3 linked regions of the Homo sapiens genome follow. The protein of the gene in region 3 interacts with the protein of the main gene of each other region in a biochemical or structural test. Each region holds a gene or a part of one and is shown on either strand. Other genes may lie near its edges.

What was found. The genes of interacting proteins can lie anywhere in the genome.
Region 1: the proteins of FURIN (region 3) and PACS1 form a complex in vitro, tested with the Homo sapiens proteins (one study listed by BioGRID).
Region 2: the proteins of FURIN (region 3) and SERPINB8 form a complex in vitro, tested with the Homo sapiens proteins (one study listed by BioGRID).

The regions. Positions count from the first base shown.
Region 1 is NC_000011.10:66,213,255-66,220,280, reverse strand, and holds part of PACS1 (phosphofurin acidic cluster sorting protein 1), read right to left. Parts: intron 4,163-7,026; coding exon 4,018-4,162; intron 3,762-4,017; coding exon 3,670-3,761; intron 3,587-3,669; coding exon 3,506-3,586; intron 536-3,505; coding exon 476-535; intron 1-475. UniProt on the Homo sapiens protein: Coat protein that is involved in the localization of trans-Golgi network (TGN) membrane proteins that contain acidic cluster sorting motifs.
Region 2 is NC_000018.10:63,973,064-63,980,089, reverse strand, and holds part of SERPINB8 (serpin B8), read right to left. Parts: intron 1,792-7,026; 5' UTR 1,782-1,791; coding exon 1,614-1,781; intron 290-1,613; coding exon 152-289; intron 1-151. UniProt on the Homo sapiens protein: Has an important role in epithelial desmosome-mediated cell-cell adhesion.
Region 3 is NC_000015.10:90,864,668-90,871,597, reverse strand, and holds the start of FURIN (furin isoform 1 preproprotein), read right to left. Parts: upstream 3,011-6,930; 5' UTR 2,887-3,010; intron 547-2,886; exon of another isoform or gene 448-546; intron 59-447; exon of another isoform or gene 1-58. UniProt on the Homo sapiens protein: Ubiquitous endoprotease within constitutive secretory pathways capable of cleavage at the RX(K/R)R consensus motif. Mediates processing of TGFB1, an essential step in TGF-beta-1 activation.

The DNA.
Region 1 (7,026 bases), on a different chromosome or scaffold from region 3:
TGTTAGCCCACTGAGAGGCCTGTGGAAACGGGCCCCTCCCGGAGCCCAGGGAAAAGACTGCTTCTCTCTCAGCAGCCCCATTCCTGGTTATTCCAGGGCTGACCAACAAGGACATTTCCACCTCACAAGCTGCTGCTCACTGATGTTCCCGTGGGATAAGAGGGGAAATTAAGTGACAACCGCAGCAGCATCCGCTGGGTCTGTCCCTGTATCGCATGCCAGAGGCTTGCGCATCACCAAGGGTCGGGCGTAGCTGTGCTGCCCTGCGTTGTGTGCATAGCCTCTCTCTCCTCTGCTTGCTTAAGTCCTTCTTAGCCACCCTCTCCCTTAGGGCTCTACCAGGTATGCCACGGGGAGCAGGAATATTAATCCTAGAATCCTGACTCTCAGTGGCAATACAGAGTGTACTCCAGGGATGCTGGGTGAAACCCGGGGAATTCTACTCACCATTAACCTTGGGAGTAAGAGGCCATACCTCATCTGAAACTTTAAACCGCTTCAGGAGGGCCACAAACTTCTGTTTGATGTTAGGTTGCTGTAGGGACAAATCGCATGACAGTTCTCAGCAACGTCCACTTGGGGTCAATTCAAGTCAATAAACACCCACCAGAGCCCACTTTCATGACGAGCTGTGGGAAGACACGAAGACTGGAGGACTTGGTCTCTGCCCTTGGCACTCAAAGCCTGTCAGGAAGACAGGCCAAATTCCAGTGTAGCTCCTGGGCCTTGGGTGCAGCTGCGGGGAGAAGGAATGTCTATCCCCAGGTCCTCCACCCCCCTGTGCCCCAACACCTCCCAAATGTGGGTCTCCAGCTCATCCCTTTCTCTTGCCCTTCGGATTCACAGTGCCCACTGCTGACTCCTACCTGCGCATGCACAGCGCGGGCACCTCAGCCTTACCACCTCCACGGTGGAACGCAGCGTCCCGTCTTCTCCTTGCACCCCGATCCTCTTACTGATGTCGCCAACACACCTGAACCAACATCTACGCCTGGAGTCTCTCCTTCTCGTTCTCCCCGCAGGCCCATTCTAGCTACCCCAGATCCTCCCTTTTCCATCTGTGACACCACTGTTTCCAGTCAGGCCTTTCTCCTTGCCTCTCTGGGATCATAGCAACAGCCTTCAGCTGACATCTCATACCCTGCCCACCTGCTTCTGGTCTTTCTCCCTCCACAGCCCACAGTGGTCCTTCCGAGTGCAAACCTGCTCATGCTACCCTCCGACTAGAAGTCTTCATTGGCCTCCACTACTTGAACAGAGCTCAGCAGTCAGGCCTGTACGTGTCCGAAGCCTGGGTCTGCCTGTTTCTAGCCTTATCTCTCTATTTGACCCTTCACACCCCATAGTCAAGTGGAAACTCACTGCTTTGAGTTCCTGGGAAAAACTGCATGCTGTTGTACTGGGCCTTTTTTTTTTTTTTTAGAGATGGAGTCTTGCTCTGTTGCCAGGCTGGAGTGCAGTGAGGTGATCTCGGATCACTGCAACCTCTGCCTCCCTGGTTCAAGTGACTCTCCTGCCTCAGCCTCCTGAGTAGCTGGGATTACAGGCACGTGCCACCACACCAAGCTAATTTTTGTATTTTTAGTAGAGACGGGGTTTCACCATGTTGGCCAGGACGGTCTCGATCTCCTGACCTTGTGATGCGCCTGCCTCGGCCTCCCAAAGTGCTGGGATTACAGGCGTGAGCCACAGCACTGTACTGGGTCTTTATATAGGGTATCTTCTGCCTTGAATAAAAATTTTCCCCAAATCCACTTGGTGAAGTTTTATTTTAAAAAACCCATCTCTCAGCATCTCATCTGGGAAGCTGTCCTGGCACTCCTGGGACAGGTGGCCACAGTCCCCTGGTGTCATTGCAAAGCTCTGTCTTATGGCACCTGTCCTACTGGGCTGTAATTATTTGTTGAAATGTGTGGTGTCACTAGACACTGTGCGCTTGATGGCATGGACTGGGCCCTATCTCTTTGTCTCTGGGCACGATGCTTAGCCTGTGGTTGTATGTACTTCCTGCCTGAATGACAGACTCGCCATCTGGGGATGAAAACAATGAACTTGCGAGGCTGATAGGTCTTCAGAGAAAGGGCAGAAAGGGCATTCACAGCAGAGAAAAAAAGTCGAGCTCCCAGTGACAGAGCAGCATGAGACATGTTCACAGAAGGTCAAGTACATCTGTGTTCTTGGTGGGAGAGAAGAATGCGCATGCACAGAGGAGACAGGCACTAAGGGAGGTCACTGAGTCTCTGGGATAGAACTGGAAAGTGCCTGCAGCTTAAAAAGAAACACCTCTGGGGGAGTATACATTAGCAGGAGCACTGAACTCCAGTCATGTGCCAGGGTCATGCCAAGGAAGAGACCCCACGTAGGAAGAGGTGACTTATGAAGCTCTGGGGGCACCCGTTGGGAAGAAAATAGGGCCGCTTTCTGGTTACAGAGCAGGAAAAAGAAAGCCTCAGCAGTAGGGGCTGACTAGAGAGAGATCCTACAGCCACTCCCTATTTCCAGAGTGCAATGGAGGTCAAGCATTTGGGGTACTGGTGACACACCTCATGGGGACCATTTGGAGCACCAATTGAGAGGTGGATACCTGAGGACAAGGAAACAGTCCTCCCGCTCCCTAGTTGCTGACTGGATGGGAAATCCAGGTCACAGTCTCACGGATTTACCTGAAGTCCAGTGACACCTCATTGTGATGGGAGAGTGATCTGGCCTCCGTTTCATCCCTGAAGGGGTGGGCATCTCGGCTCTCAGGGGTTTGGTCCCTAGGCTAGCTCTGCACTGGGGAGAATCAGGATGCCTCTGGGTAAATGGAGCTGTGAATTCCCCTTCGGAAATGCTCCCAGCACTTCTGGCCCTCCCACACTTCATGCAGGCACTCCAGAATCTGTCAAAGACCACCTAGGAATTCAGGTTTTTAGCTTCTTAGTTCAGGACTCAAATGTCATCAAAACAGTGACTCTTGAGGAAGTCTTATGGAGGAAAAGTATCAAAAGGCACCTGGTCTCCAAGGTTATGGATCCGTTAAGGCAGGAACGATATCTGATGTAATTAAAGCTTAGCAAGCCCAGGGTCATAGGAGCACCCCATGACTAGCCTATTATCTCTGCCTAAGTTCAGCACATGATTAAAACTAGTGCTACTCCTAGAGGGAGCTGGCTTTCTCGCTGCAGAGGACAGCATGTGACATGAAGCAGCCACTGGAGTGGGTGGGAGGCGGTCTGTTCCCTGATGGACCACTATCTGTTCTGAATTCTACAAGAAGGGTTCTCCTCCTTTTTTCTATCTGACGATAACCTGAAGGATATAACACTCTTATCAGTAATTGTGGTTCCCAACAACAGTGAGTCTAATTGGGCGGTGGTGAGGATATAGAGCGTTCATTGGAATCGTTGAAGGGATGACCCTGTGTTGATTTTAAGAAGTCTCCACTAGGCCTGAATATGCTGCTGCCAACCTACCCCCAGACTGAAAATCTTAGCCAACCACTCCCCAGACCTTTGAGGCTCACCCTTGTGATGGCAGAGGTTGAGGTTAGTTTCCTCCGGGTCTTCTTCACTTTCCGGAGATCTTCGTCTTCGTAGAACAAGTCCTAAGTGGGTACAGGGACAGAATGAGGGTGGGAAACCCCAGGAGCTTCTTGGACACGCCATGTGAGGGACCACAGAAAGTTACCTGCCCATGCAATGGATCATCACTGCCTTCCTGTTCTGATGAGAAACTCTCTTCCTCTTCCTCAGAATAATTGTCAATATCAGGAGAACGATCTGCAACAGACACCTGAGTAAGATAACCTTGCAATGGGAAGATCTGGCCTAAGAAACTTCGATGGGCTGGAATCAATGGTTCTCTTTGGGTGGAAACACAGCCAGGGTGGAGGGGAGGGCCAGGGCCGAAGCCACATTTTACTTTCAGGGGTCTCTAAAGGTCTCTTGCCCAGGAACATCTCAGGCACTGTCTTGTTCACCTTTCCCAGGATGGGCTCCCTCTTCGTAGGGTCTCCAGATGCTGCATGCTTCTTACCAGAAAGCTTGGATTTGATTCCTTCATGGTCAATGGGTTGGCTGGACAGGGAGTAGATCTTTATTTCTGCCACAGGCACAGAGACATCCTTCACGTTGCTGTGTAGGCCAAGCACCAGTGCGCCTTCATTAGGATGCTGCATCACCTAGGAGCCAGGGGAGGTGGTGGAGGCGTGTTACTACAGAGGCACCTGGAGAAACACAGCCAAGGAATGCACAAGACCCCAGGGGCAACAGCATTCTGCTGATACGTTTTCTTCCTTACTTTCAAATCCATGCCTACTGTCCTACTGCTTCACGGTCTTACTTTGTTTATTATTATTATTATTATTATTATTATTATTATTATTATTATTATTATTTTTGAGACGGAGTCTCTCACTGTCGCCCAGGCTGGAGTGCAGTGGCGTGATCTCGGCTCACTGCAACCTCTGCCTCCCAGGTTCAAGCGATTCTCCTGCCTCAGGCTCCCAAGTAGCTGGGATTACAGGCGTCTGCCACCACGCTCAGCTAATATTTTTTGCATTTTTAGTAGAGACAGGGTTTCACTATGTTGGCCAGGCTGGTCTCAAACTCCTGACCTCATGATCTGCCCGCCTCGGCCTCCCAAGTGCTGGGATAACAAGTGTGAGCCACTGCACCCAGCCTGTTTTTTATTATTATTAAAGGCAGGGTCTCACTCTGTCACCCAGGCTGGCACGCACTGGTGTGATCACAGCTCACTACAGTCTCGACCTCCCAGGCTCAAGTGATCCTCCCGCCTCAGCCTCAGTAGCTGGGACCACAGGCACACACCACCATGCCTGGCTAATTTTTAAATTTTATGTAGAGATGGGGTCTCACTATGTTGCCCAGTCTGATCTCGAAATCTTGGGCTCAAGCAATCCTCCTGCCTTGGCCTCCCAAAGTGCTGGGATTACAGGCGTGAGCCACTGCATTTGGCCTAAGGTCTTAACTTTAAAATTATCCCCAGAAGTGCTGGTCAGGGCCATGTGCTTAAAGATAACAATCAAAGATTGAAAATGGCTGCTCGGGCCAGGTGTGGTGGCTCACACCTGTAATCCCAGCACTTTGGGAGGCCAAAGCAGGCGGATCATGAGGTCAGGAGATCAAGACCATCCTGGCTAACATAGTGAAACCCCGTCTCTACTAAAAATACAAAAAATTAGCCAGGTGTGGTGGTGGGCGCCTGTAGTCCCAGCTACTCAGGAGGCTGAGGCAGGAGAATCACTTGAACCCAGGCGGCAGAGGTTGCAGTGAGTCGTGATTGTGCCATTGCACTCCAGCCTGGGTCACAGAGCAACACTCCATCTAAAAAAGAAAAGAAAAGAAAATGGTTGCTTGGCCGGGCACAGTAGCCTGTTCCTGCAATCCCAGCACTTTGGGAGGCTGAGGCGGGCAGATTGCTTGAGTCCAGGAGTTTGAGACCAGCCTGAGCAACATGGTGGAACCCCGTCTCTACTAAAAATAAAAAAATCAGCTGGGTGTGGTGGCGCATGCCTGTAGTTGCAGCTACTCAGGAGGCTGAGGTGGGAGAATCACCTGAGCCCAGGAAGTCGAGGCTGTAGTGAGCTGTGATTGCACCACTGCATTCCAGCCTGGGTGACAGAGTGAGACTCTATCTCAGGAAAAAAAAAAAAAAAAGAAAAGAAAAAGAAGAAAGGAAGAAAGAATGGGAGCGAGAGAGAGAAGGAAGGAAGGAAGATGGAGGGAGGGAGGGAGGGAAAGGAAAGGAAGGAAAGGAAAGAAAGGAAGAAAAAGGAAGGAAGGAAGGAAGGAAAGAAATGGTTGCTAATCTCTAAGACTAATTTTAGTGTAAGTCCTTCACAGAGAAACTTGCTCTTGAGTCTGGGTGAGGCCAGGCCTATAGGTGGTGGTCGCCTGTCACTGGCAATGAGGAAAAGGAGCCCAGTCTACAGGGAATGGCAGAGCCTGGCGTAGCAGGGGCAGTGGGTGCTGGCGGGAATTCACTGCCCCGTCTCCACACTGACACAAACACTGACTGAGCAGGACAGAAAGACGGGCTGGAACTATCTCAAATTTTCTATCATGGCCACAAAATTGTTCCTATTTAATTTACTAAAGTACAGAAATAATTTTAAAAACAGATTAGCGGCTGCTTTCTTCTTCCTGTTAGGATTGAGAGGAACTGCCTGGCACACAGGGAGCTGCACCAATGAGTACATGTATTGAGAATAATCACAGCCTTTTTTTTTTTTTTTTTTTTTTTTTGAGATGGAGTCTCGCGCTGTCGCCCAGGCTGGAGTGCAGTGGCGCAATCTCGGCTCACTGAAAGCTCCACCTCCTGGGTTCACGCCATTCTCCTGCCTCAGCCTCCCGAGTAGCTGGGACTACAGGCGCCCGCCACCATGCCCGGCTAATTTTTTGTATTTTTAGTAGAGATGGGGTTTCACCGTGTTAGCCAGGATGGTTTCGATCTCCTGACCTCGTGATCCGCCTGCCACAGCCTCCCAAAGTGCTGGAATTACAGGCGTAAGCCACTGCGCCCAGCCCACAGCCTGACTTCTTACCATTCCAAAAGGGAATTAGAAACATGGAGAAAGAAAAGCTATAAAAAGGCATTGGGTTGGAACTGAAATTATCGATGTGTGCTCACGGTTAGATAGATCTGGACCTAGACCTGAAAGGAGCTGTGACGTGTGTAGACACGAGCACATGTGTGCATACAGACAGATCTTTCTCAGCTCTGTCTGCTCAGTGGGAGTGCATGACACCCAGTTGGGGACATGGGCACTCCTGGTACCCAGATCTTGGTTTCTGAACACCATCCTCTACTGAAAAGAACCAGGGCTCCTCAGAGAATCTGCTCATTCTGGGAGCTGGGTCAGGGAAAGTACAAGATGAGCCTGAAATGTTTTGTACCAGAAAGTACGGTAGGATGTAACGAATGATGAGACATATTACTAAGGACTCAAAGCTGGCATGAAGGGGCTCCCATGGGCCAAATCTGATAAGTTTGTGCATCAAAATAAAAAAATGATAGTAGCAG
Region 2 (7,026 bases), on a different chromosome or scaffold from region 3:
ATTCAGAAGTCATCATAAAATCTAAAATTGTAATTTCAGAAGTGTAATTCCAAGCACGTTTTAAGTCAGTACAGTTATACTTTATTATCTGCTCTTCTGTAGTCTAACTTACTTTCAATTTCTTTGTCATCAATATGTGAATACTACTTACTGGAAGGAAATCACACGTCTTTTCTCCAAAGAGTCTGTTGGCAGTTCTAAGCAAGTACTGAGTGCCAGTTCTGTTAACTTCACTGAGAAGTGACTGGAAACCTCGGTGAATATCTCCGTCTTTGTATAAACAAAGTGCCTGGGAACAGAAACCAACACTGACTTTTAACGCTGCCATTATACTCTCCCAAAGAGCTTTCTCCAAACAAACCTCTGTACTAAAAAAACCACACAGGATCCTACTTTAAAAAGGTTTGGCCTAATTGTCTAGCACAGGGTTTCTCAACGTGGGCAATGCAGCATTGACATTTGGGGCCAGGACACTTCCTTGTCTCATATAAGCATTGTAGGATTTTTGCAGCACTTCTGGCTTCCATCCACTAGATGTCAGTAGCACCTCTCAGTTATGGGATCTAAAACTCCAGGTCTTCGCAAGGGTCCCCAGGAAGGAAAAATTCACCCACCGACCCCTACCTCCCACCCACCAGGTGAGAACCACTAGTCTAGCAAATTTATTCATGCCAGCAAGGCAGTGTGCGATAATTCAGGGGGAAGGCAGAACAGAAAAAAGTAAGTAACTGGGATGAATTACAACTCGGGTAATACAAACAAAAGCAGCAATAAAACTAAAAATGTTTCATCTGCAATTTTACAGAAGTTCTCCAGACCATATTATAAATTAAATGTCAAGTCAGAGTGAGAATTAAGGTTATTCCTATATCTCTCGATCACCCCCAGTCCAAAGCCTCACTCCTCCAATCAGTTGAAAGAAACAACCACAGAAGGATGTCAACTGGGGTCCCTGGGTGCATTTTAGGAGACTGTCTATACACTCCTGATATTGGTGGCAAAATGATATCCATTTGGCAATTATCTGGGACATCTTCACCAATAGTCAGAGAACTGTTCCTAAAGCATTATCCCACACCTCGTTTGTAGATAAGGTCATACATCACCATTTTGAATCAAACAGATTATATATTCCTCAAATCACTCCAGAAGATATAAGTCCACACTTGTGTTACATTCCTCTTCTAGGATGCATAATCATGCACTAAAATAACCCACTTAACAAAAAGTTAATCTACGCACCCACATGTCTATTAAAAATATAATGTTAGCAAAAGTTTAAAATGTAACAAAATTGGAATATTTTGCTTTCTTGTGGGACAGAATTATACTTTATCCTACTTATCAAAGATGTGAATTTGCCAGACTGTATTGATGATCTGATCTAGAGAAAATAACTCTATGGCTTGACTTCTCCCATAAACATCAGAGGAGATGATCTGTCCAACACATTTCACCTTTCTACCCCTTTCTGCTCTTCTCCACTGCCGAGCTGCTCCTCCTTCTACCTCCAGCTCCACAGGCCTCAGCTAGAGCAAAAGTACAGAAAGACAGCTGTATGGAAGCACAAGGGAAACACACTGTTCTCCTTCCTTTGTGACAAGCACACATACCTGGGACATCTGGGCTGCAGTGCTTCCCTTTGCCCCCATGAAGACCATGGCCAGGGCAGAGGAGATGCTCATGGGAGAGAAGAATACGTTTCTTGAGTTGTCCTCTTCCCCCAATATTTTAAATAAGCTGATGGCAAAAGTGCCATTTGCTTCACAGAGGTCATCCATCAGAGAAGGTCTGCATCAAAGGCACAGCAGGGAAAAGCACATAAGCCAATGACTCCGGTAGCCACGCAGTCATTCATCCCCCAGTCAGTGGACGCTGAGGTGGTAGGTGGAAGAACCACCCTCCAAAGACTTCCACTCCTAATTCCCAAAACCTGTGACTACATGATCTGCCCTGGCAATAAGGACTTTGCAAATGGTATTCAGTTAAGTATTTTGAGATCTGAGATTATCCTGAGTTATCCCAGTGGGCTTAATGGAATCACGAGCGTCCTTAAAAGAGAGAGGCAGGAGGGGCAGAGTCAGAGACAGAGACATGAGGACGGAAGCAGAGGTCAGAGGGATAGGGGCCACTGATGAAGGAATGCAACCTCCTCGAGAAGCCAGAAAAGGCAAGGAACAGATTTTCTTCTAGAGACTCCAGAAAATAACATTGCTATGCTGTACCATTTTGGACTTAGGACTTCCAGAACCATAAGATAATAAATGTGTGTCATTTTTCAGCCACTAAATTTGTGGTAAAGTGTTATCACACCAATAGGAAACAAAAACACTGGTTTATTCATAAAATAGCCAATCTCAGGGCCTATGACTTGTATCCCTCTTAGCAACAGGGGCACAGACACCCTGCAACACCTGCTTACTTCCTCCCTTGGTATAGCAGCAGCCAAAAGGTCTTTGTGCGGACGGGTGTGGTGCCTCACACCTGTAATCCCAGCACTTTGGAAAGCCAAGGCAGGCAGATCACTTGAGGTCAGCAGTTCGAGACCAGCCTGGCCAACAAGGTGAAACCCCATCTCTATTGAAAATTCAAAAATTATCCAGGCATGGTGGCGGGCACCTGTAATCCCAGCTACTTGGAAGGCTGAGGCAGGAGAATCACTTGAGCCCCAGGAGGTGGAGGCTGCAGAGAGCCGAGATCACGCCACTGCACTCCAGCCTGGGCAACAGAGTGAGACTCCATCTCAGGAAAAAAAAAAAAAGATCTTGGTGCCAGGCACTGTTTTCAGCACTTTCCATTATCACCCAATAACACATTGAGGTCAGTATAGTTATTGCCCCACTTTAGAGATGAGAAGACTGAGTGAGGTTTAGTAACTCATTCCAGAACCCTCAGGTAGTCATAAACGCCTGGCACCCACAGTTTGATTCCAGAGCCTGAATTCTTAATCATTACACAAAATCCCCCTATTGCTGCTAATTATCTTTCAGTTTAATGTCTCCAATATAATCTATAAAGAATGTTCTAAAACTTATATATGTAATTCTTTATCAATAAAAACTGTATTTCTGTCATCACTTCCTGTGAAAACAGCTAGATACATTTCACCAAATTTGGAGGGTTTGTTTGAGATAGGCTGGCCTGAAATATGAGGCTACTGGAAAGACAAAAAAAAAAAAAATTACTTTTTAAAGTGACTCCAAAAAGATGCCCCATTTTCCCCAAGAGTTGCTGAAACTGGGTTACGGAGTTGCAAAGAAAGTCCATAGGCATGGATATAAAATATGAAGCCCTAATCTTGTCATCGAGGGAGCACTTTTAATTAGATGCATTGATTTTTGGATCCTCCTGGCTAAGAGGGTCTTAACATTCCCCTCAGCTTGAATTAACTTTAGACAACCTAAACTTGACTAAATAAACAAACTAAACAGGCTTCCTCCTGCCTCTAGGCCCTTTCTTCCTTTTTCTTAAAGCATTTTATTTAGAGAACTTGTCATTGTAAATTCTTTATCAGCCCCTTTGAGATGTAAATCTTTTAAAAAAGCTTCTTGCTAGTTTTACATCCCAGGACAGTCTCTCAAAGACCTGGAAGCCATCCTTTTGAAATGTAATCATCAAGAAAGATAGCATCCCTATCAACCAGTTCTGTGGAAGGTAGGAGCCTAATCTAGGGGGGCACCTTGCTTAAAGTGCTAAAAAGCTATTACAGTTTACTATTATTATAATTTTAGTGCATTATTATAAGTCCTACATTGTTGTTTATATCTATTAAACCCTATAAAAACGTGGGCTATTTCATAAAATATTGCAGTTCACCAACTCATCTCAATTTCCCTCAGCCTTTTTGTTCTTACAATTGAGAACATTTGGGAAAATAAAAGGACAAATCATTATCTATAATCTCATGATCCTACAGATATTTTTTCTATTATATTATCCTTTTTTTCATAAACATGTATAATTTTAACTGAAAAATGTAGTCAAACAAGAAAAATATGCTCCAGTTTGGAAAATTAGCAAATGAGCAAAATGAAAAGTCCTGGAAACTCTATCTAGAGATATAAATTATCGTGCATGTGTTCATTTCTATAAACAGATGGAGCCTCATCCAGTTTCCCAGCGGCCTACAAAGTGCCTGTTGCAGCAGCTCTGAAACTGTATGCCCTTAGTGGGGGTCTTGGACAGGTCTTCTGGGTCTCTTAGAGCACAGGAGGAAAGGGGAATTGAGTGGCTGAGACAAGGAAGTGGGGAACAACTGTATTAACCAAAGTATCTTCACTGTTGGATGTTTTGCTTCCTCCTAAGATATTTCGCTTCCTCCTAAGATATTTTTCAACAGAAGGGTGTCTCTTACTTAAACAAAAAAGTGAGCTTATATATTTTTTTAAAGTGTAAAGGCAACACTCTAAATATAGAACAACAGTCTAAAGCAGTGCAAATTCTTTAAAGTTTAAAATAAATGTTAGTGCAGTTCAGAAAAAAACAAGTAGGGTTAGGGTTATGGTTAGGGTTCAGAAAACTAAGTAAAATAAATGTGAACCAAGAAAACACAATCATGACATAATTTGCACAACAGTACTCTATACTTAAGAGGTTGTTTATTATGGAACAAAATATTCCTGTTTCTCACTATCCTCACATCATAAGACCTCTCCAGAGCTTATACTAGGGTCTGCAGATGTTGGAAGGCAGAGTAGTATGTGCAGGCAAGTCCCGGGGTCCTCCACAACCTCATCTTTCACTCGAGGACATTTCAGAGACTGGGAGGCAGGAAGGAATATTCAGACTTCATAGAACTGGGCCAACCAGAAGGTGGCACCAAAGAAACTTAAAGATGGAGAGAATTGGGTAAACTGGGTAAGACAGAGACACAAATAAATTTGGATTTGATCCAACCTTAGCATAAGAGCTTTGGACTCAGGGTGAAGCAAGCATGAACTTAGGTTGGGGTGTGTGTGTGTGTGTGTGTGTGTGTGTAGGTGTGTTTAATCATCCTGTCTGAACTATTGAATCAATAGTTTCAATAGTTCTGAATGAACTGAACTATTGCATCAATCTCATCTTTACATTTTAACTGCTCTTAGTTGCAAACTGCTACTTCTGATTTCTTCCATCTTTCCTCTTCCTTCATCTCATGTCCCCACTTCCATTCCTTTTCAACACTCAGGTGCTGGTCAGTATGTGGTATTTCCCATCAATATCTACCCTGCAGCCACAATACATGTGCACACACTCACACACAAGTGCACCCCCTTGGCCTCTGCTCAGGTCAGAAGTCAGGCAGGGGAGAAAACCAGGTAACAGAATGACTCTTCCCCCTGTCTTCCTGGTGTTCCAATCTCATTTGGACTTTATAGCTTTTGAAAGGGTTGGAACTTTAAACAAAATGGACTTTACCCAATATTTCTAAAAAGCAATTAATTTTAATACAAAATAATACTTTAGGTGCCAATGCCACAATTAGATTGTGTTATAAAAACACAGGAATCAGAAGTTTTTATTTCCAGCCAACCAAATAAATTGGCATTAAACTAGTTTTTCCTTTTCAGGCAAACAAACAAAGACAGAGGCAATTAAATACTGTCCACAGGACTCACAGAAAAAGTGAGAGTCAGCCTCAAAAGCAAGCCTTACGTTTCCAAGTATATGATATTGTCCTCCTCCTGGGAGCCCCAAATACCTACGAACTACCTCCTCCACTCCCCCATCCCCATACAACATCCAAAAGTGAGTTTATTCAAAGAGCATTTATGTAGAATGTTCACTACCTGTTTTGGGAGGAGAAAATGAAAAATAAATGCGTTAATCACTGCCCAGAAGCTTACACCCTAAAGAAGACACACATATGGAAATGCGTAGTTTCAAGCCAGTCAGGTGCTCTATAACAGGATAATTTTGAAAGTGCTATGGAAATCCTCAGAAAAAAACAAGTAAATAAATAAATAATAAGAAGAAAACCTCTACAGAATCCTGGAAAGACTTTCCAGAGAAGCTGGCTTTAAAAGCTGGGCAGGCCAAGGTAATTTATAGATTCAATGCCATCCCCATCAAGCTACCAATGACTTTCTTCACAGAATTGGAAAAAACTACTTTAAAGTTCATATGGAACCAAAAAAGAGCCCACATTGCCAAGACAATCCTAAGCAAAAAGAACAAAGCTGGAGGCATCACATTACCTGACTTCAAACTACACTACAAGGCTTCAGTAACCAAAACAGCATGGTACTGGTACCAAAACAGAGATATAGACCAATGGAGCAGAACAGAGGCCTCAGAAATAATACCACACATCTACAACCATCTGATCTTTGACAAACCGGACAAAAACAAGAAATGGAGAACGGATTCCCTATTTAATAAATGGTGCTGGGAAAACTGGCATATGTAGAAAGCTGAAACTGGATCCCTTCCTTACACCTTATACAAAAATTAATTCAAGATGGATTGAAGACTTAAATGTTAGACCTAAAACCATAAAAACCCTAGAAGAAAACCTAGGCAATACCATTCAGGACATAGCCATGGGCAAGGACTTCATGACTAAAACACCAAAAGCAATGGCAACAAAAGCCAAAGTAGACAAATGGGATCTAATTAAACTAAAGAGCTTCTGCACAGCAAAAGAAACTACCATCAGAGTAAACAGGCAACCTACAGAATGGGAGAAAATTTTTGCAATCTACCCATCTGACAAAGGGCTAATATCCAGAATCTACAAAGAACTCAAACAAATTTACAAGAAAAAAACAAACAACCCCATCAAAAAGTGGGCAATGGATATGAACAGACACTTCTCAAAGGAAGACATTTATGCAGGCAACAGACACGTGAAAAAACGTTCATCATCACTGGTCATCAGAGAAATGCAAATCAAAACCACAATGAGATACCATCTCACACCAGTTAGAATGGTGATCATTAAAAAGTCAGGAAACAACAGGTGCTGGAGAGGATGTGGAGAAAAAGGAACACTTTTAAACTCTTGGTAGGACTGTAAACTAGTTCAACCATTATGGAAGACAGTGT
Region 3 (6,930 bases):
GCCCTGGCGGGGAAACTTTTCCAGGCGACCGCCGCGGCGGCTCGGGCGCCCCTCGGCCGCCCATGCCGCCCGGGCCCGACTGCGGGCCCGCGTTCCCAGCGCCGTGGGCCCCAGCGCGTCCGGCCCCGCGCGGCGGCCCTGCGGGGCCTTCTGGGGCGCCCGCTGCCTCCGGCTCCTGGTAGGGGCAGGTAGGAAGTGGGGCAGGCGATCCCAAAGTCCTCGCGGCCGCCCGGCGCGTCCCTCAGGCCCCGCTGCCGTGCCCCCGCCCCCGGGCTCGGCTCTTCGCCCCGCGAGCTCCCCGGGAAGACGGCCGCGGAGACCCGAACTCGGAACCAAAGGGAAAGGCTTGGGGGAGGCACTCCGAGCCCTGCCTCAGCCGGACTCTTGGGGGACTGGCCCTCTCCGTCCCCCGCTTCCCCACTCCTGGGCGACGAATTTGAGCCTGACCGGGTTAAGTGCCCAGGGACGGCGGACCTGGGGTCCTCCACTCCCAGGTCGAGGGAGGACTGCACGGCGGCAGGACCAGCCTCCTCTTGGCCTACTGTTAGAGGAGTCACGACTTCGTCTGCATTTGTATAGACAGGTGGATATATGAGCAGAAGTAGCCCACCTCCTTTTAATATTTTTAGCTTTTTTTTCTTTTTAGACACCAACCGCTTGCCAGGCACCAGGCCAGTCACTTTACATTATCTCCTTCTTATGTACATGATTTAATCCACATAATCCTTTCAGGCTGAGATTATTAATCCCATTTTACAGATAAGGAAACTGAGGCGCACAACGTTTAAATAATTTGCGCAAAGTCCCACAACCAGCAGACCTCAGATCCTGCAAGAGACTGGGGTGTTTGGCAGAGCCTGAATCCAAGCTACTTGCAATATACCAGCCGGAGCCTCTCCCTCCCTGGGCCCTAGAAAACGTTTGTGCTACTTGGCTGAGGCCGACGCTGCTTGAGCTGAGAAAGAAAAGAAGGAAAATGTGGCCAGGAGCTTCCCAGGCTGGGTTATTCCAAGGTCGCAGAGTAGCCTGTGCCCATCTCTTCTCGCTCCCTGTGAGATAACCTGGCTGCACAGGATCAGCCTGTGGCCTCCTTAACACAGGTTCCCGGGTAATGGGAAAAAAAAAATCCACTGAGTGTTTTCTATGAGCCAGGCACCATTGAGAGCTCTTTTCCTGTGTCAACCCGTTTTATCCTCACCACATGCCCCATGAGGTGGGTACAGTACATTTTCCTTTAAGTACCTTTGATGTATCACTGTCTGCATTTTATAGAGGAGGAAACTGAGGCCCAGAGAGGTTAAATCATGATAATTCTTAAGGCAACTGGTGAAAAATCAATCAGCAAACCGGTTCAAATCCCTGGGGCACTATTTTTTGCTGGGACACCTTAGACAAGTTAATTTCTCAGGGACTTCCTCAATTTACCCCTCTATAAAATGGAGATAATATTTAGTGAATGGGATCAGGTACGATTCGGGCACCTTTACAAACACTGCAAGAACTGGAAACTGGAGGAACAATGCTGGGTCCTCAAAGTTGAGCGGGAAGATAAGTCCAGTTGGCCTTGTCCCAAAGTGGGGACTTCCCCTCCGCCAAGGAACTAAGACTTGTAGGGGCCACACTGGGTAGCGCCAGCCACAGTTGGGAGAACAATACTCCAGCAGTCAGACTGAGGCAGGAAGTGACTCACGCTTCTTCCTTAGGCTGTGAGCAAGAGAACTCCATTGAGGGGAAACAGGGACAGGGCTGGCCCCACCTACCCACTTGTCCTCAGGCCTAGAAGAAAGGTCAGCCCAGAAAAATAGCAATACTTGCTGCTTCAGGTGCCCCACCCATCCTGGAGACTGGCCCCAGGGGAGCCCGCAGTGGGTCTTTGGAGGGGGAGGGGCTAGCCTAGGCTCAGATGACTGCCACCCAGGCAGAGGCGGTGGGAAGTGGAGCTTCCCAGTTTCTTCCAGCCAGCTTGCCTCTTCAATCTGCATAAGGCAAAATTCTTTAAAGTGGGTTCTCAGAGGTGCCTCCCTGAGAGGGAGGAATGAGGACAGGATTGGGCAGTTGAGCACCTCTCTCTGCTTCACCCAGAGTGTCTCACATTTTAGGGTTTCACATGAGATTGTATTTTACAACAATTCTGCTGCTAAAAAGAATTTGAAAGCCACTCTCTGTGAGACTTCTCTGGAAAAAAATCCCATTTGACCACAACTGGTGACTTCTGCCTTTATCTCATTGCAACAAGTCCTGTGGGCAGGTATTGTTCTCTTTATCACTCTCAACTGGCCCTGGAGCCCAGGTCTCCTGACCTGGGGCCCTAGGGGCCCAAGGTCCTCTGGATCCCACCTTACCAGTTTTACACAGCAGTTAGCAGGACTTGGGCATGTGACAGAAGTCTGGAGATGAGTGAGAGGAGCAGGGCCTGATGGGTAAGTGGGGGCTGTAAAGGGGCTCCATTTTCCCAGCAGGGCTCTGGGAGGAAGAGTCCAGCTAGGCCTCTCTTTATCCTTGATTTGGGGCTAATCCAGAGAGGCTCCTGAGAATCACATAGTCCTAAATCCACCCAGTCATCCTGACTCCAAGCACTCCTGTTGTCTCCTTGGGGTGCTCTGGGAGTCTTCTCTGAAATCTCTGGTCCACCTCAGGCACAGCAAATAAAGCCTTCGGCAGCAGCACCCACACCTAGTTGTAAGCAGAATGTCTACACAACATTCAGACGTGCATAGAAGGGTGCACAACAAAATTCCATTGGTGTTCTCTCCGAATGAAAGGGTCACATTTGCGATCTTTGTTTTCTTCTTTTTGCCTACCTGCATTTTTCAGGAATGTCTACAAGAACTCCTAAAATAATTAAACCTTTAAGTCAATGCAAAATCGAATAAAGCATGTCCATACTTCACCATCCAGCTCCAGAGCACCTGGGATTCATCCTGGCCGCTGCTGCTTCCCCGCCACTCACTGCAGCTGCAACAGTCAGGCTCCTATCCCTTCACAGGGCGGGGCCCTTCCAGTTCTGGCTAAACCACTTTGGGAAAACCTTCTTTATATGACAGGCAAACAGGGTGTCTGTGGGTGGGGGGAGGAGCTAAAAGTGATGTGGTGGTGACATATCTGGTCGCACTGGAACTGGATCCTAACATGGCCAGCCAGCCCTTCTCATTTTCCTCATTTATTGGGGTGGGTCTGCACTTACCTTCTGCCTGGCTTTGCTGCATCCCAGCCACTGGCTGACTTAATGACTTCCTTCCGCCAGCTCCAGCTCCTTGTGTTCTGCCTTGCCTTCCATGGCCAGCCAGTGCTGCCACAATTATGTACCTAATAAATGCTTTGGGTGCAGTCTCGCCTGGCAGACATTCATTGAGCAGCTGCTGAACGCTGGGCTCTGGTGCCCCATAGCTGGGTCCCTTAGAGCTTGTCCATAGGAAGCCAGAGACCACCTCTCTAGTAGGGTTGCATGGAGGTACCTGGGACACACCAGGGTCTTCCTCAGTCTGCGACCTCCCTGGCCTTCCAGCTTCAACAAGCCTGCTGCCCATCCTTCTCTCTCTCGATTCAGAAATGTGAATCACTCAATCCTCATAGTTTTTTTTGTTTGTTTGTTTTATGGGTTTGTTTTTTTTTTTTCTAGACAAGAGTCTCGCTCTGTTGCCCAGGCTGGAATGCAATGGCCTGATCACAGCTCACTGCAACCTCTGCCTTCTGGGTTCAGGCGATTCTCATGCTTCAGCCTCCCAAGTAGCTGGGATTACAGGCTTACGCCACTCGTATTTTTTTTTTTTTTTTTTGTATTTTTAGTAGAGATGGGGTTTTGCCATGTTGGCCAGGCTGGTCTCGCACTCCTGACCTTAAGTGATACACCCACCTCGGCCTCCCTAAGTGCTGGGATTATTAGGCGTGAGCCACCACGCCCGGTCCCCTTGTTGAGTTTTCAATCAGTTTGTCATCCTGAACAGGGTTTCTCAACCTTGGCATTATCAACATCTTGGGTCGGATAATTCTCTGTAGGGGACACTGCACTCTACATTGCAGGATGTTCAGTCGCATCCCTAGTCACTAAACATTAGCTGCTAGTAGCATTCCCGCTCCCATGATGACAACCAAAAAGATCTCCAGGTATTGCCAAATGTCCCTTGGGAGACAAAAATCTCTCCCAGCAAAGAACCACTGTCGCAGAATGAGGAGTGGGAACGTCACAGGATGGTGGTTAGTGTGCCAGGGTTCGAGGCAGCAAGAGTTGTCTGCTGGGAACTAAGCTCTGAGACAGCTAGCAGTGAGGGAGAAAACTCCCAAACTTGAAACTGCCCAGTATGCCAGCACAACAATGGGCCGTTTAGTGATCAGGGCAAACAATCATGCATCCTCATGACATCTGAGATCACTTTCCATCGTGTTGGTGATAATGCTGAATCAAGGAAAGGATCAATCATGTTGATCATACTCCATTTTCTAAGGTGGGGAGGTGTGTGAGCCCTTGTAGCATTAAAGACGTATTTGGAAAACAGATCAGTGCTTGCTTGGGGAAGGGGGCAGGGAGGGGCGGGAGGAAACTTTTGGGAATGATGGACATGTTCATTATCTTGATTGTGGTGATGGTTTCATGGGTGTGTCCATATATCAAAACATATCAAGTTGTACACTTTAAATCCATGCCGTTTATAGTGTGTCAGTTATACCTCAGCAAAGCTGTTTTGAAGATGTGTTGTTTAAAGTTTTAGTGCTTGAAGGGCATTATTTTGAAAATTCACTACTGTGGAGTAGTCCATTTCTTTGCTGAATAAATAAGGGGTCACTGTAGTACTTAAAAAGAAAACAGGAAGAAAAAACAAACAGAAGAAGAAGAAGAAAAGCGATCATGGGCTGTAAGGTCGTCCTAGGCAGGGAAGGAAAGGAATGGCGTGAAGAGTTGGCTCAGTCGCCCCTGAGTGTGGCCCGGAGAGCCTGTCCTCTGGCCTACGGCAGGCCCCAGAGAGTCTTTCCGTTGACTGATGCCATCAAATCAACATGTCTGGAACGGTATTATCAGGGACTTGGGAAAAATAGAATGACAAATGTGCTGGCTGCCAGGAAAGGAACAGATGAGTCTGGAAATTATAGGCTCCTCCACAAACTTTAATCCCTAAAACAAACATTGCTGGGGAAAAAGTCAGTTAATACCTGGAGGAGTGTGAGTGCTGTCCTTCAATGGGGCACGGCACACCTGGGAGCAGAGAGCATTTACAGAAGCCAGACACCGTGTGCCAACCTGTGTCAACAGGCTCATGCTCAAGGGGCTGCACGTGGCAGCAGGGAGCACTGCGAGCGGCAGTGAGGGGCCCTCTCTGACGGTGCAGATGCTTTTTGGCTGATGGAGACCTCTACGGAGGTTCTCAGGAGCCCCTCAGCGAGGCGGGTGAGCAAGGAGAGGGGCTGTGATAGCGATGAGTTATATGTGAAAAGAAAAACTGCTTTTGTGGAGGTTGATTGTGCACTGGGCATTTCATTCACTCATTCCTCAGATACTCATTGAGTGCCTGCTGGGTGCAGGACCTCTTCCAGTGCTTCAGTTATAGCGAGGGAAGCAGGCAGTTCACAGGTGAATAAGCCAGTTTATGAGAGAAGTTCAGATCATCCTAAGAGCTCTGGAAGAAAATGATAAAGAAGGTAATGTGGGAGTGCCTGGGGAAGCGGGAGGGCTGCTATCCCTGGGGTGGTCAGGGAAGACCTCTGGGAGGAGGTGATGTTTGAGCTGAGGCTGAAAAAAGAGGCAAAAGTGTAAAGATCTGGAGGAAGAGTGTCCCAGGCAGAGGGAGAGGCAAGGACATGGGCCTGGGGGCATGAGCTTATGCACTTGGGGAGCAGACACTTCTTGGAGCATGGCCGAGAGATGAGATGAGAGGTAGGTAACGGGCTGGATCACAGAGCACTTGCCAAGCTGGGTCCAGATGTTGAATTTAATTATCAGAGCAATGGGCTCTGGATTCTCAAAATTCTTTTGGAAATTTGACTGATTTACCCTTTAATAAAAATTATTTATTTATTTATTTAGAGATGGAGTCTTGCTCTGTCGTCCAGGCTGGAGTGCAGTGGCGCAATCTCGGCTCACTGCAACCTCCACCTCCCTGGCTCAAGCAATTCCCCTGCCTCAGCCTCCCGAGTAGCTGGGATTACAGGCACACACCACCACACCCGGCTAATTTTTTTGTATTTTTAGTAGAGACAGGGTTTCACCATGTTGGCCAGACTGGTCTCGAACTCCTGACCTCAGTCAGTCCACCTGCCTCAGCCTCCCAAAGTGCTGGGATTACAGGCGTGAGCCACCGCGCCCAGCCATTTTATTTTTATATTTTTAAATTTAATTTAAAAGATGGGCTCTCACTCTGTTGCCCAGACTGGCCTCAAGCAATCCTCCTGCCTCCCCCTCCAGAGGTGCTGGGATTACAGGCGTGAGCCACCGTGCCCGGCAAATTTACCCTTTTTAAAGGCTCCTCTGACTACCATGGGGAGTAGAGATATGGGGGTTCGTGTGGGAACCCACCACAGCCCGACGCAGGAGGCACCATAGGTGACCCTCCTGATGTGAAATGTAGGGGACTGGCTTGGGGGAGTCCAGTGACTTTTTTTTTTTTTGAGACAGTGTCACTCTTGTCACCCAGGCTGGAGTGCAGTGGTGCGGTCTCAGCTCACTGCAGCCTCTGCCTCAGCCTCCCCGAGTAGCTGGGATTAGAGGCATGTGCTACCACGCCCAGCTAATTTTTTGTATTTTTAGTAGAGACGGGTTTTCATTTGCTACGTTGGCCAGGCTGGTCTCAAACTCCTGACTTCAAGTGAACCACCTGCCTCGGCCTCCCAGAGTGCTGGGATTACAGGTGTGAGTCACCGCCTTGAGTGACTCTATAAGCGCCCAGCCCCTGAATGACTTACAAACCAGTGAGCAGGTGGTAGGCTCCTGCGCAGGCCTGG